Homo sapiens: one gene and its partners. The protein of the gene in region 2 purifies or fractionates together with the protein of the main gene of each other region. This does not show direct contact. Each region holds a gene or a part of one and is shown on either strand. Other genes may lie near its edges.

Region 1 (3,500 bases), on a different chromosome or scaffold from region 2:
GTTCTTTCAAACAAACATAGTGTTCTGGAGGAAAGCAGCTAGTTCAGATCACACCTCTATGGTGCAAGTGGTTTTCCTTGAGAAAACCATTATGTTCCAGTATGCAGCAATGCAGCACAAGCACTTTATATGCACTTCCTACTTTGCCACACAAAATATTAAAAAGGCATGTATTCAGGGACCAAGATTTATTAATTTCTACTGCTTCATCAAGGATATTTATTGCAAATGCATGATGATGAAGAATAACTCCTGATACAGTCCCTGCCTTGAGTTGGTTAAGGCACCAGCAAACTAACTCATCAATGTTTTTGTACCATCAGTAGAAATAATGGCAAATAATTTCTTAGGATTATGAAAATAGTTTTGATATACTCTCATGGATGACCCGAAAGGGTCTTAAGGATTTGTGTGGGTCCTTATACAACATACTTGAGGATCACTGATTTAGACAATAACAGGAACAGACTTTTCCCATCACTGTATTTCTTAGACATTTATTTCTACTCAATATGAAAACTGAACAGTTAAGAATGTTAGCGTTACATATACAACACAACATGTAATCTAGGTCCTAGAATACATTCATGTATCAATTATCCAACAACCAAAATCCAAGAATTAAACAAATGTTTCTCAATATAAAAAACAAAGGTAGTCGGGCTCAGTGACTTACACCTACTATCACAACACTTTGGGAAGCCAAGGCAGGAGGATGGCTTGAGCCCAAGCATTCAAGATTAGCCTGGGCAATACAGGGAGATCCCATCTCTACAAAAAGTAAAAAAAAAAAAAAAAAAAAAAAATAGCCGGTTGTGGTGGCACACACCTGTAGTCTTAGCTATAGCTGTGGCGGGAGGATTGCTTGAGCCCAGGAGTTCAAGGATGCAGTGAGCTATGACTGTACCACTGTACTCTTGCCTGGGTAATAGACGGAGTCTGTCTCTTAAAGCAACAACAACAACAACAACAAAAAGCGAAAAACCAAAAAACAAGGGTCACAAAACCCAAACATTAAAGTGAATGGAGTTCATTTATCTTTTAGACCAAATTCTAGAAAGATTAATTAGCAAGTTTATCAACAAATTAAAAACAAGAAGAAAAAGCAGATTGTGTGTGGTGGCAGCAACACAGGATTGCTAAAAGGAAAGGCACTGACAGGAAGGGATATAGACAATAGTATGGTGTGACAATGGGAGCCCAAATAAAAGGGAGCGAAAAGGGGAAAAAAAGCAAGCATTAAAAAAATTCACACAAGCAAGCCAGAAGCGAGGATTCTGGCCATTGGTTGTACAGTGGGAGAAAACAATGCTATTTATTTCATCTACCTCTCATGGTCATGAGAACAACCGTAATTCATAGGAAAAGTCACGGTATCTGCTATATAAGCTAATCATGGCTTAAAAGAAAGTTTAGATAATCAGAGGACTATATCCCATTATATGGAAATTTCAAAATGGTGAATATATTGGTGGAACATTGTTTCCTCATGCCACATAAATGAGGTAATAATGTACATTTTCTTTGGTGAACTCAAAGTAGATAGATCCTACACAGAGGCTGGAGACTATATTCAACAGAATTTTCTGTGATATTGGAAATGTCCCATAGCTGCACTGTACAATATGTGACTACTGAAGACTTGCAATGTGATTAACGTGAATAAGAAACCGAATTTTTAAGTTTATGTTATTTAATTTAAAAAAAATTTTTTTTTTTTGACATGGAGTGTCACACTGTCACTCAGGCTGGAGTGCAGTGGAATGACCTCAGCTCACTACAATCTCCACCTCCCAGGTTCAAGTGATTCTCATGCCTCAGCCTCCTGAGTAGCTGGGATTATAGGTGTTTGCCACCACGCCTGATTAATTTTTGAATTTTTAGTAGAGACAGGGTTTCACCATGTTGGCCATTCTGGTCATGAACTTAAGTTTATTTAATTTTAATAGCTACATGTGGCTTATGACTACCATAGTGAACAGCACAGAGTCCTTCATAAAACTGGTCAGCAATATGCTGATTAAAAAGAATCTAAGTTCTACTAAATTGTAAGCTACGTTAAAAAAACTATTTATGGCTAGGCTGGTGGCTCAAGCCTGTAATCCTAGCACTTTGGGAGGCCAAGGCAGGTGGATTGCTTGAGCCCAGGAGTTTGAGACTAGCCCGGGAAACATGGCGAAACTCAGTCTCTATTTTAAAAAAAAGAAAAAAATAAATAACACTATTTATAAAAATGTGTAAAATTTCTCATGTTTAAGAGATCTGGCAGGTGAGACATTGCTAACTTAACATAAATCACTTGTAGGCCACTAAGTAATCTTAAAAATCTTAATTTACATTGTACTAGGACATTGGAGTGAATATTTAGGCACCACTTGTAGAAAGCTCCAATTTGCACAAAATAAATGGCTTCTGGACCATAAATCAACTGATTCATAAATTCACTTAACAATTACACTGAGCCCTGATCATGTCTATGCTTAGCTTTAGGAAAACCACAGTAAACAAACTGGATTCAATCCCCGCCCTCAGAGAGTTTATAGTCTAATAAAAGTAATCGCAGATCAAAGGAAGTTCTCAGAGGAAAATCAACAGGTGATAAGATAATTGGATAAAGGTTAATTTGGGAGAGGACGCTCAAAAAGGCCTCTCTGAGGAAATGACAAATGACTTGAGGCCCAAAGATGAGGCAGCCAGCCAAGCTACTACCTTTCCATGCAGATTAGCCAAGGCCCAGAGGCAGGAAGAAGTTTGGCTTGTTACTGGAGTCAGGCCAATGAAGACCCAGGATAGGAAAGTTGGGGAAAGGGTGCCAGATGAACTTGGAAGTTAAAATCAACCATCCAGTTTTCCTTTACTTGAGCAACACATCCAGCTTCAGATGGCGTAACACCCACTTACCAAAGAAAGGGTCCTGGCCTAGCTGCTTTCGAAGGCTTTCTACCACAGGGTGACCAAAGGTGATGTTGGGAACAAAATGCCTACAAGACAAACAAAATCTACTCTGAAAATGTTTTCAATTCAGTTTCTGTATCTCTCTCAATATGAATTCTGACACAGGTTGAGGGGATTGTCTGCAATGTTTTTCAATTTAATACTTAATCATCAGTATTAAATAATACTAAAAATAATGGGTCATTTTGGTTTTACTAGGCAATGTCTCCTTGACATTTCAACAAATCACGTCACATATATTTTCATAATGATTTGACTCCGTAATTCACGACCCATGACAAGTAGAAATGGAGAGATGATAAAATCAGAAACCCTCAGGCTTTATGACTTGCCCAAGTCACACACTAGTTAGTAAGTTCTGGACTCTAATATTGATCTCCTGAATCCTAGTCTATCTCAGGAGGCCTGTGGCTACTTCTAATCACTTCTATCACAAGGCACTAAATGACAGTTTCTTTAAACTTTCTTAAAGATGACTAATAAAGAAACATGATGTGTTTATTAGTAACGACCACCTTTCACCGAGGGTTTACTACATGCCAAGC
Region 2 (3,898 bases):
AGGTTTAGACTTAGAGGCTGTCTTCCAGAAACCAGGGACAAAAACCAGCCAAATTATATACAACAAAAGGGCTTATTTCTGTCATTTTGCGGGTTTTTTTTTTTATGCAAGTGTTTATCTTTTTTTCTCTGAGTTCTAGTACTACCTTCTTTTGGTTTTGATTGAATTTTTCTACTCTGTTTTTATTTACTTATTTTTGAGACAGGATCTCTCTTTGTTGCCCAGGCTGGAGTACAGTGGTATGATCATAGCTCACTGTAACCTCAAACATCTGGGCTCAAGCAATCCTCCTGCCTCAACCTCCTGAGTAGCTAGGAGTACGGGAACGTGCCACCACACCTAGCTAATTTTTAGTTTTTTGCTAGCAATGGCGTCTCACTGTGTTGCTCAGGCTTGTCTCAAACTCCCGGCCTCAAGTCATCTTCCCACCTCAGACTTCCAAAGTGTTGGGATTATAGGCGTGAGCCACTATGCCCAGCCTCTATTCTTACTTTTCTTATTCCCTTCTTGCTCCCTTTTATGAGATAGATAGATATATATATTCTCCCACCTCAGCCTCCCTAGTAGCTGGGAGTACAGGTGCACACCACCACGCTCAGCTTATTTTATTTTTTTTGTAGAGATGGGGTTTCTCTGTGTTGCCCAGGCTGGTCTTCAACTCCTGGGCTCGAGCAATCTGTCCACCTTGGCCTCCCAAAGTGCTAGGATTACAGGCATGAGCTACTTATGCCTGGTCTTTCACTAAATCTTGAACTCCTCGCAACCACTCACCTCACTTCCTCCGTAGTTTTGCCTTTTCCACAATGGTCATACAGTTGGAATCTTAACAGTATGTAGCCTTTTCACATTGGTTTCTTTCACTTAGTAATATGCATTTAAGTTTCCTCTATGTCTTTCCATGCTTTGATAGCTCATTTTTGGTTTTGTGCTGAATAATACTCTATTGTGTGGATGTACCATAATTTATTTATTCATTCATTTACCGAAGGACTTCTTGGTTGCTTCCAGGTTTTGGCAGTTATGTATCAAGCTGTTATAAACATCCATGTGCGGGTTTATTATTTTCTTAGTGATTACCCCAATGATTATAACTAATGTCCTAAATTTATTATAATCTTATCTTTAGTAGCCTACAAAAAACTCTTTGACTGTGCCCTTGTTATATTGTCACAAACTCTCTTTATGCACCATATACCCATTAACATAGGCTATAAATATTGTTTTATGCATTAGTCTTTTAAATCATAAAGGAAACAAAAAGAAGAGTTACTTAAAATACAGAAATATTGGCTTCTGGCCAGGCGCAGTGGCTCACGCCTGTAATCTCAGCACTTTGGGAGGCCGAGGCGGGTGGATCACGAGGTCAGAAGATCGAGACCATCCTGGCTAACATGGTGAAACCTCATCTCTACTAAAAATACAAAAAAAAATTAGCCGGGCGTGGTGGCAGGCCCCTGTAGTCCCAGCTACTCAGGAGGCTGAGGCAGGAGAATGGCGTGAACCTGGGAGGCGGAGCTGGCAGCGAGCCGAGATCGTGCCACTGCACTCCAGCCTGGGTGACAGAGCGAGACTCCGTCTCAAAAAAAAAAAAAAAATACTGGCTTCTATATTTACTTATGTAGTTAATTTTACCTGCGTTTGTCTTCCTTTTTTCCTTTCTCTCTCCCTCCCTCCCCCTCCCCCTACCCCCTCCCCCTTGCCCTCCCTGACACTGCCCCCACCCCGCCCCACCCGTCACTTCTCCCATCCTTCATTTCAATCTAAAAGGCTTCTTTAGCATTTCTTATGGGCGGGTCTCCTAGTGTCTACCTCCCTTAGCTTTTGTTATCTAGGAATCTCTTTCTTTTCTTTTTTTGAATGATAGTTTGGTATATATATAGAATTCTTGGCTGGCAATTTTGTTTTTTTCCAGCACTTAAAAAAATGTCCAACTAGGCACAGTGGCTCACACCTATAATCCCAGCACTTAAGGAGGCCGAGACGGGTGGATCACTTGAGGTCAGGAGTTTGAGACCAGCCTGGCCAGCATGGTGAAACCCCATCTATACTAAGAATACAGAAATTAGCCAGGCATGATGGCGCATGCCTGTAATCCCAGTAACTCAGGAGGCTGGGGCAGGAGAATCGTTTGAACGCGGGAGGCGGAGGTTGCAGTGAGCCAAGATCATGCCACTGCACTCCAGCCTGGGTGACAGAGTAAGACTCTGTCTTAAGAAAAAAAAAAAAAGTCCTCCTGCTTCCTCCAGGCCTTTATGTTTTGTGATGAGAAATCCACTGTTAATGTTACTGAGGATCCCTTGTAAGTGATGAATTATTTTTGTCTTGTTGCTTTCAAGCTTTTCTTTGTTTTTTCACAGTTTAATTATAATGTGTCTTAGAGTGGATCTTTTTGAATTTATTCTACTTAGATTCTTTGAGCTTGATGTGTAGGTTCTTGTCTTTCATCAGATTTGGGAAGTTTCCAATCATTTCTTCAAATGTTCTTTCTTCTCCCTCTGAGACTTTGATTTTTGCCTACATTGGTGTGCTTTATGGTATTTCTCTTAGACTCTGATTTTCTTCATTATTTTTTCTTTCTGCTCTTAAGACTAGACAAGTGCAATTGATCTACCTTCAAATTGGCTCACTTTTTCTTCTGCCTGCTCAAATCTTGTATTGAACCTCTCTAGCAAATTTTTTCATTTTTGTTATACTTTTCAATTCCAGAATTTCTGTTTGGTTCTTTTTTATAATTTTTAAATCCATATTGATGTTCTCTATTTGTAGACACATCACTTTTCTTGTTTCCCCTAGATATTTGTCCATGGTTTCTTTTAGATTTTTGAGCATCTTAATTTAGTAAGTCCAACATGTCTTGACTTCCCCAGGGTCAGTTTCTGTTAATTTCTTTTTTCTGTGAACTGACCGTATTCTGTTACTGTGCTTGCTTCATAATTCAAGTACTTCATTTCCTTAGTATACTTACTCACAAATCAGATTTTACTCTTTCCAAAGATTTCATTTTTCTGCTATATGTTGAATGTAGTTGTTTGCCTAGTAACTTTTATAATCTATTTTGTAGAGACTATTCTTTCTCATGTATTACCCCTGAGGTGTCTATTTCATTAATATATTGTACACCAAAATAAAATTCTAAGCCACCCAACTAAATGAATGGACCCCCTCCTCTCAGCCAATGGCATTCTAAAGTAAACCTGAAACACTAGTTCAGGTCGTGCTGGGAATGGGTGGTTTGGACATGCCTCATTATGCCTTCCTCCCTTTGGAATTCAGGTACTGCAGACCAGCATTAACATCAAAACAGAGACCTTAAGACTGACTGAACAGACTCTTTCAGTAGATAAGAAACATTTACAGTCTCTTCTTTCTGAAGCCTGCTATCTGGAGGTTTCATCTACAAAATGAGAACCTGGGTCTCCACAACCCCTTATCTTAACAGCACTCTTACAATACTCCCTTGTATTGATTCCAGGTCTTTAGATAAACTCTTTCTACCAGTTGCCAATCAGAAGATCTCTGAATCCACCCGTGACCTGAAAATCCCTACTTCGAGTTGTCCATCTTTTCTGGACCCAACTAATGTACCTTTTACATGTATTGATAGATGGCTTATGTCTCCCTAAAATGTACAAAACCAAGCTGTAACCCAACCACCTTGGGCACGTGTTGTCAGGACCTCCTGAGGCTGTGTCACGTATATCCTTAATCTTGGCAAAATAAACTTCTAAATTGAGACCTGTCTCAGATACTTTTTGGTTTACTATATAGTCATCTGGTGTTTCAACAGACATTTCCTTTAATTCCTGAAGAAGAAAAGATTGCCTAGTCTTTGCAGCTGGGCCCTGTGCTTGAGCACTCACCCAGACACTTTACAACTCTGCATTTGCTTTGTGCAGAG
Region 3 (3,500 bases), on a different chromosome or scaffold from region 2:
CCTCCCCCAGCAGGAAGCAGGAATGTGGCCACAGGGAGGCCTGCCCCAGGCACCAGCACTGAACTCTCCTCGCCCTTCCGGTGTCAGCCTCCCCTCCTTTACATATTTACTTACGTGTCAGTTCACCACCCCAGCCTACCCCTGCCAGGGGCCTTGTGTCTCTGACTTTCCATGTCTGGAACAAGGTCTGGTATCACCAGGTCTTGGATAAAGCTAGAAATGATTTTCCTTTTTCTTTCCTTTGATCTCATCCGTCTTGATTGTTCCACCATAATTCAGAAGATGGTGATTTTGTACCTGTAAGTGCAGGGCTGCTATCTTAAATGACACATTGAGTGTCAAATGTCTTAAGAGACGCGGTCTGAAATGACAATTCTAAGTTTCTGTGGACTGGCTGATGGATTTCTCAGCACCAAGAAACCCTGATCTCAGCACCACGCAAGTGGTTCATTTCTGGCAAGCACCAGGATTCTTTTCCTCTTTGCAAACTCGAGATAGCAGCAGGCGGCTGAGGGCCTCTTCCTGGCAGACTTGCTGGATAGGCTGTGTGTGTGTGTGTGTGTGTGTGTGTGTGTGTGTGTGTCAGAGAGAGAGAGAAAGAGAGACTGACTCTGAGCCCAGATTCAACTAAAACATGGCATTCTGGGGGATTTCCTGAGTCCCTCCTCCAGATCACCCCAACTACTGGGGCTGCAAAATCCAGGGCATACCACACAGATTTGGTGATTCTTGTGAAATGCGTGAGTGGCAATGGTTTACACTTTTCATAGTTGACCAGATGTCTCCACTTCCATTTTCTCTTTTGCTAATCACAGTGATTCTAATATAGCACTTGAGTTTTTTGTTTGTTTGTTTGTTTGAGACAGGGTCTCACTGTGTCACCCAGGTTTGAAGTGCAGTGGTGTGATCACAGCTCACTGCAGCTTCAACCCCCTGGCTTCAAGAGATCCTCCCACCTCAGCCTCCTCAGTAACTGGGACTACAGGTACACGCCAGCGCACCCAGCTAATTTTTGTAATTTTTGTAGAGATGGAGTCTCACCATGTTGCCCAGGTTGATCTCAAACTCCTGAGCTCAAGTGATCTGCCCGCCTTGGCCTCCCAAAGTGCTGGGATTACAGGTGTGAGCCACCACACCCATCCAAATTGACCATTTTAACTATTTTATTTTATTTATTTTTTTGAGATGGAGTCTTACTCTGTCACCCAGGCTGGAATGCAATGGTGTGATCTCAGCTCACTGCAACCTCCACCTCCTGGGTTCAAGCGATTCTCCTGCCTCAGCCTCTCGAGTAGCTGGGATTACAGGCATGTGCCACCATGCCTGGCTAATTTTTGTATTTTTAGTAGAGATGGGGTTTGCCATGGCTGGTCTTGAACTCCTGACCTAAGGTGATCCACACGCCTCAACCTCCCAAAGTGCTGGGATTACAGGCGTGAGCTGCCACCCCCGGCCCATTTTAACCATTTTAAAGTGTACCATTCAGTACAGTTCAGTGTATTCACAACATTGTGCCACCAACCCCACTCTCCAGCTCCGGAACATTCCAACTCCGGAACATTCCAGCTCCGGAACATTTTCTTCACCACAAGAGGAAACCCCATATCCGTTAAACAGTCCCTCCCCATTCCTCTCTCCCCCAGTCCCTGGCGACCACGAATCCATGCTCTGTCTCTATGGACTTGCCTGTTCCGGACACTTCAGAGAAGTGGAATCATATACTATGTGGTCTTTGGTGTCTGGCTTCCTTCATGGAGCCAGTGTGTTTGGGGCTCATCCATGCTGTGGCATGTGTCGGAACTTCACGACCTTTTAAGGCTGAAGGCTATTCCGTCACATGGACATGTCACATTCTGTGTATCTATTCGTCCATTGATGGACACCTGGTTTGTTTCCACATTGCAGTGATTTAGAGTAATGCTGCTAGGAACATGGGCGACCATCATCTCTCTGAGTCCCTGTTTTCCATTCCTCCGGGTGTCTGTCCAAGAGTGGATGGCTGGGGCATATGATAACTGTGTGGAGTGTGTCGCAGAACTACAGAAAACTCCCCACAGAGCTGCACTGAAGCCACGCTTTTCAGAAGGCAGCAGATGGTGATTCAGGGCAGAGCCTGGCCTCTTCCTGTCACTGGCCTTCTCCAGCCTCTTTCCAGTTCCTCCTCTCAGCCCCGCCCAGGCGAGGCGAGGGGAGCAAAGGGAAGCATCCCCGTGGATGGAAAGTCCCAGGCTCCCTAGAAAAGCTCCTTAGGGGAGGGGACGCCTGAGCCAGCTCTGAGGGATGCGGGGTTTCTCAGAGCCTGCTGAGGAAGACAGGCAGGAGAGTAGGGGTTGCAGGCCCTGCAAGGCAGAGCTAGAAGGCAGGTGGCTGCTTGGCAAGGAGCTCCACAGAGCTTGCGGTGGCTGAGGTCATACTAACACATGCAGCCAGCACCCACGGGTACAGTCCACAGCCAGTGCTGACCTATGTCCACGCCTTCCTCCCCACAGCTCCAGGGTGTGGGCTCTAGGGGACCCCATTACACAGATGAGCAGACTGAGGCTCCAGGGTCTAACTCACTCCTATGGCATCCCAGAAGCACTGGTATCCACGCCCTGACCACCAAGCTGTGTGCCTTTCCACGGTGACCACAGACAAGAAGCTGAGCTCAGAGAGGCACAACAGCTCTCTCACGCTTACACACCAGGGGCTTCCGGTGGAGGGAGGATTTGCGCCTGGGCCTGGGCCGTGCCTGGCATTCTTGCTCACTGTCCGCGCCCCACCCTCCTGGGCTACGAAGTCCCGGGGGTAAACCTTCCACCTCCTGCTCTCGGATGGCAGCTGTGACCACTCACTGAAGTAACAAATATGACCACTGAAGGAAATCTATAAAAGCTCAGACATTTGCACGCAGGTGGGGGTCCTGCTCTGGGACATGTTAATGAACTTGGTCCACAGCAGCAGATACCTTTGTAGGAGTCAAGAGCAGAAGATTCTGGCTCCAGCTCCACCACTGGGTGCTGTGTGTCCCTGGCAGGGTCGCTGTCCTCTGAGCTCAGTTCTTTCACTGCAGAGAGGGTGTCAGGAACCGCCAGGAGGCCGAGCACGCTGAGGGCCACCCCATCCTCAATGCAATCCTGCCCCTGGATTGCTTGGCGGCAGCAAACTGCCCAATGGTGTCCCTTGCTGCGTGGCTAACTGGTCCCTTCTGTTTTGCCTTTTTGTTTGAAGAGACACTTGTCGCCCGAGGAGTTCCAGGAAGTGTTTGGGATGAGCATCGAGGAGTTTGACCGCCTGGCCCTCTGGAAGAGGAATGACCTTAAGAAGAAAGCCCTTTTGTTCTGACGGCTGCCAGCCTGCCCCACTGGTGTGTGCCGGGCGCCGAGGCCAGGGGCCCCTGGCGAGAACCGCACACACCCCTCCCACACACCTTGCTCTGGCTTCTCTGTGTCCATGGGGTGGGCGGGAGGGGGTCCCCCAGCAGGTGCGGCCCCTGCACCTGCCGGCGACACTCCTGCCGG
Region 4 (3,500 bases), on a different chromosome or scaffold from region 2:
CCATCCACCCATCTCCCCTGGCCCCCTATAGGTTACCATTTTTATTAGTTTCTTATTTTTCACTGATTCTTTATCCAAATATAAATACATATTATTTCTTTTCTTTCTTATACAATAGGAGGTATACGATATATATTCTCTGCATTTTGATTTGTTAAACCTAATAATGTACCCTCTGTAGATCTTTCTATTTTAGTTCATAGAGATCTTCCTGATTCTTTTTTAAACATTGAATACTACTCCAGTATGTGGATATGCCATTATTTATTCAATGAATCTTTCGTTGCTCGGACACTAGGGTTGTTTCCAAATTTTTTGATGCTATACAATAATGCACCAACAAAGCACACCAATGTATTAAGGTTGTTTTATACATTTGCAGGTTTATCTATAGAATCAAAATGAAACTGTAGTGTCAAAATGCAAATGGGTATAGAACTTTTACTGAATTCCCTGACAAAAATGCAGATTTCTTTCTGATATGAATATGCTGTCTCCTAACCCTAAATTTAAGGATAAGTTTCTTAAGTAGAAATTTTAGTAGAAAATAGAGAACAAGCTAGGTTAATGAAGACATCAGTGATGAAAGGAATTGAGATAGGAAATAAATATCAATGAGGCTTTGAAATATAGGTTTTAAATTAGTTGTGCTTATTCTTTATTAGGTCTTGCTGGAATCTACATATATATACTCAAACTTATACTATATTTAGGTTTCACATAACAATTAGACTTCCACACAGAAAACAAAGCCTTTGAAAGACTTGCTTCAATCAAAAGATAGAAAATGGGGTTCTGTTCTAGGTAAGACAGAATAAGCAAACTCTATCCTGTCTTTCCCAGTGAATGCAACTATAAAACCTGGACAGGATACATGAAGTGGCTATTTGAGGACTCTGAAAAATTAATAGTGAGCATATTAAGGAAGACTGCAATGTGAAGAACCATTGAATTAGCAGTTTCCTTCCATATCCCCTTGTCTGAATGCAACTCAGCTTAAAACCCAAAAGTGTGAACAGAATACTCCAGAAGAAGGCCTATAGTTCTGGCTCATGAAACAAGAAAGGGGACACACGAATACTTGGAGATAGTGTAGAAATACAATATTTTTCCTTCTGTTGTAAGCCAGCTTCTGAGCAATTTCATGACAGTTGTGGCAAAGGCTATAACACAAGCAGAATGCTCAAAAACAACAGTCCCCAACCTTTTTGGTACCAGAGACTAGTTTCATGGCAGACAATTTTTCCATGGACAGGTGTTTGGGGGATGGTTTCAGGATGAAGCTGTTCCACCTCAGATCATCAGGCATTAGTTAGATTATCATAAGAAGCCTGCAACCTAGATCCCTCACATGCACAGTTCACAATAGGATTCACGCTCCTATGAGAATCTAATGCCTCTGCTAATCTGACAGGAGGTGGAGCTCAGATGGTAATGCTCACTCACCTGCCACTCACCTCCCACTGTGTGGCCTGGTTCCTAACAGGCCATGGACCAGGGGTTGGGAACGCCTGCTTACAAATACAGAGGAAGGGAAATTTTTCTTTTTTTTTTTTTTTGAGACGGAGTCTCACTCTGTTGCCCAAGCTGGGGTGCAGTGGCGTGATCTCGGCTCACTGCAAGCTCCGTCTCCCAGGTTCATGCCATTCTCCTGCCTCAGCCTCCCAAGTAGCTGGGACTACAGGCGCCCGCCACAACGCCTGGCTAATCTTTTGTATTTTTAGTAGAGACAGGGTTTCACCATGTTAGCCAGGATGGTCTCGATCTCCTGACCTCATGATCCGCCCGCCTTGGCCTCCCAAAGTGCTGAGATTACAGGCGTGAGCCACCGCGCCGGGCCCAGAAGGGAAATTTTTCTGACTGATGGAACTGTATCTCAAGACAGTGGGGCAAACTCCCATTGCTTTTATTCTTTGTCCTTCTACCACTTGGCCCTGGACATAGGTGCAGTTGTGCAAGTGCATGAGAAAATTTGGCCTGGGGACCGAAAAAGGGAGCCCCAGCAAATCACAAAGTATGGCAGAGACTGTAGACAGGGTGAAGTGTGAGAAAGCAACCCCATGAAGTAGTTCGTGAATGCTTGAGCTCATTGCCAAAGCTGTGCATGCATGGATTTGATCCTACTTAGTGTACCAAAGACACTGAAAACTGAAACAACAGAGACAACAACACCCAGGTCACATACCGGGTGTTGCACAAATATAAAATAAGTGAAATCATATAAAGTATGTTCTTGGATCATAATAAAATTAAGCTAGAAGTCAATAGCAAAAAATAACTGGAAAGCCTCTAAATACATGGAAACTAAACAACACATTTCTAAACAGCCTATGGGAAAATCTCAAGGAGTATTAGAAAATATTTTGAACTAAATGAAAATAAAAGTAATACATTTAAACATTTGCAGGATGCAGCTAAAGCAGTGTTTAGAGGGAAATTTATAGCATTAAAATACTTGTATTGGCAAAAATGCAAGGTATCCAGTAAGTAATCTAAGAAGCTATAGAGAACAAAATAAACCAAAAGCAAGCAGAAGGAAAGAAATAAGAGTAGAAATCAATTAAACTGTATATGGAAAAACAATAGAGAAAAATCAATGAAACCAAAAGTTGCTTCTTTGGAAAAAAATCAATACAATTGATAAACCTCTACAAGTCTGACAAGAAAAAGAGAAGACATAAAATACCAAAATCAGAATGAAAAAGGTCATATCACTACAAACTGTGCAACTATCAAAAGGACAATAAACAAATACTATAAACAACTCTATTGATATACATTAAAAAATTTAATGAAATAGATGGAATTCCTTGAAAATCACAAATTACAAAAACTCATCCAAGATGAAATAAATAACTTGAACAATCCTAATTACTAAAGAAGTTGACTTTGTGGTTAAAAACCTTTCAAATAAGAAACCTCCAGGCCCAGATGGTCTCTTGGTAAATTCTACCAAACCTTCAAAGAAGAAATAACACCAAATATACTCAATTTCTTCCAAAAAATAGAAGAGGAAGGAATACTTCCAATTAATTCTATGAGGCCAACATTATCCTCACACCAAAACCAGTCAAAGACATTATGAGAACAGAAAACTACACACCAATGCCTGTCATGAACATGGATAAAAATCCTCAACAAAATATTAGCAAATCAAATCCAGCAACACATAAAATGAATAATACACCATGACCAAGGAATGGAAGGCTGGTTCAATATTTGAAAATCAGTGAATGTAATCCACCAGTATTGAAAATCAGTGAACGTAATCCACCATACTGACAGCCTAAAGAAGCAGCCACATGTCCATATCAATTGATGCAGAAAAGGCTTTTGACAGAATTCAGTATCTGTTCATGATATTAACAAAACTATCAGCAAATTAGGGATAGAAAGAAATGTTCTCAACCTGATAAATGATGTCAACAAAAAAAACCTAAAGCTGACATCATACTTAATAGTGAAATGAATGCTTTCCCCCTAAGATTGGAGTAAGACAT

The links.
Region 1: the proteins of PKN2 (region 2) and RPE fractionate together in Homo sapiens (co-fractionation; one large-scale study listed by BioGRID). This does not show direct contact.
Region 3: the proteins of PKN2 (region 2) and ABLIM2 purify together in Homo sapiens (co-immunoprecipitation; one large-scale study listed by IntAct). This does not show direct contact.
Region 4: the proteins of PKN2 (region 2) and RABL3 purify together in Homo sapiens (affinity purification with mass spectrometry; one large-scale study listed by BioGRID and IntAct). This does not show direct contact.

What each region holds. Positions count from the first base shown.
Region 1 is NC_000002.12:210,009,138-210,012,637, reverse strand, and holds part of RPE (ribulose-phosphate 3-epimerase), read right to left. Parts: intron 2,982-3,500; coding exon 2,902-2,981; intron 1-2,901. UniProt on the Homo sapiens protein: Catalyzes the reversible epimerization of D-ribulose 5-phosphate to D-xylulose 5-phosphate.
Region 2 is NC_000001.11:88,774,529-88,778,426, forward strand, and holds part of PKN2 (serine/threonine-protein kinase N2), read left to right. Parts: intron 1-3,898. UniProt on the Homo sapiens protein: PKC-related serine/threonine-protein kinase and Rho/Rac effector protein that participates in specific signal transduction responses in the cell.
Region 3 is NC_000004.12:7,966,814-7,970,313, reverse strand, and holds part of ABLIM2 (actin-binding LIM protein 2), read left to right. Parts: exon of another isoform or gene 1-555; intron 556-3,210; coding exon 3,211-3,324; 3' UTR 3,325-3,500. UniProt on the Homo sapiens protein: May act as scaffold protein. May stimulate ABRA activity and ABRA-dependent SRF transcriptional activity.
Region 4 is NC_000003.12:120,701,017-120,704,516, forward strand, and holds part of RABL3 (rab-like protein 3), read right to left. Parts: intron 1-3,500. UniProt on the Homo sapiens protein: Required for KRAS signaling regulation and modulation of cell proliferation. Regulator of KRAS prenylation, and probably prenylation of other small GTPases. Required for lymphocyte development and function. Not required for myeloid cell development.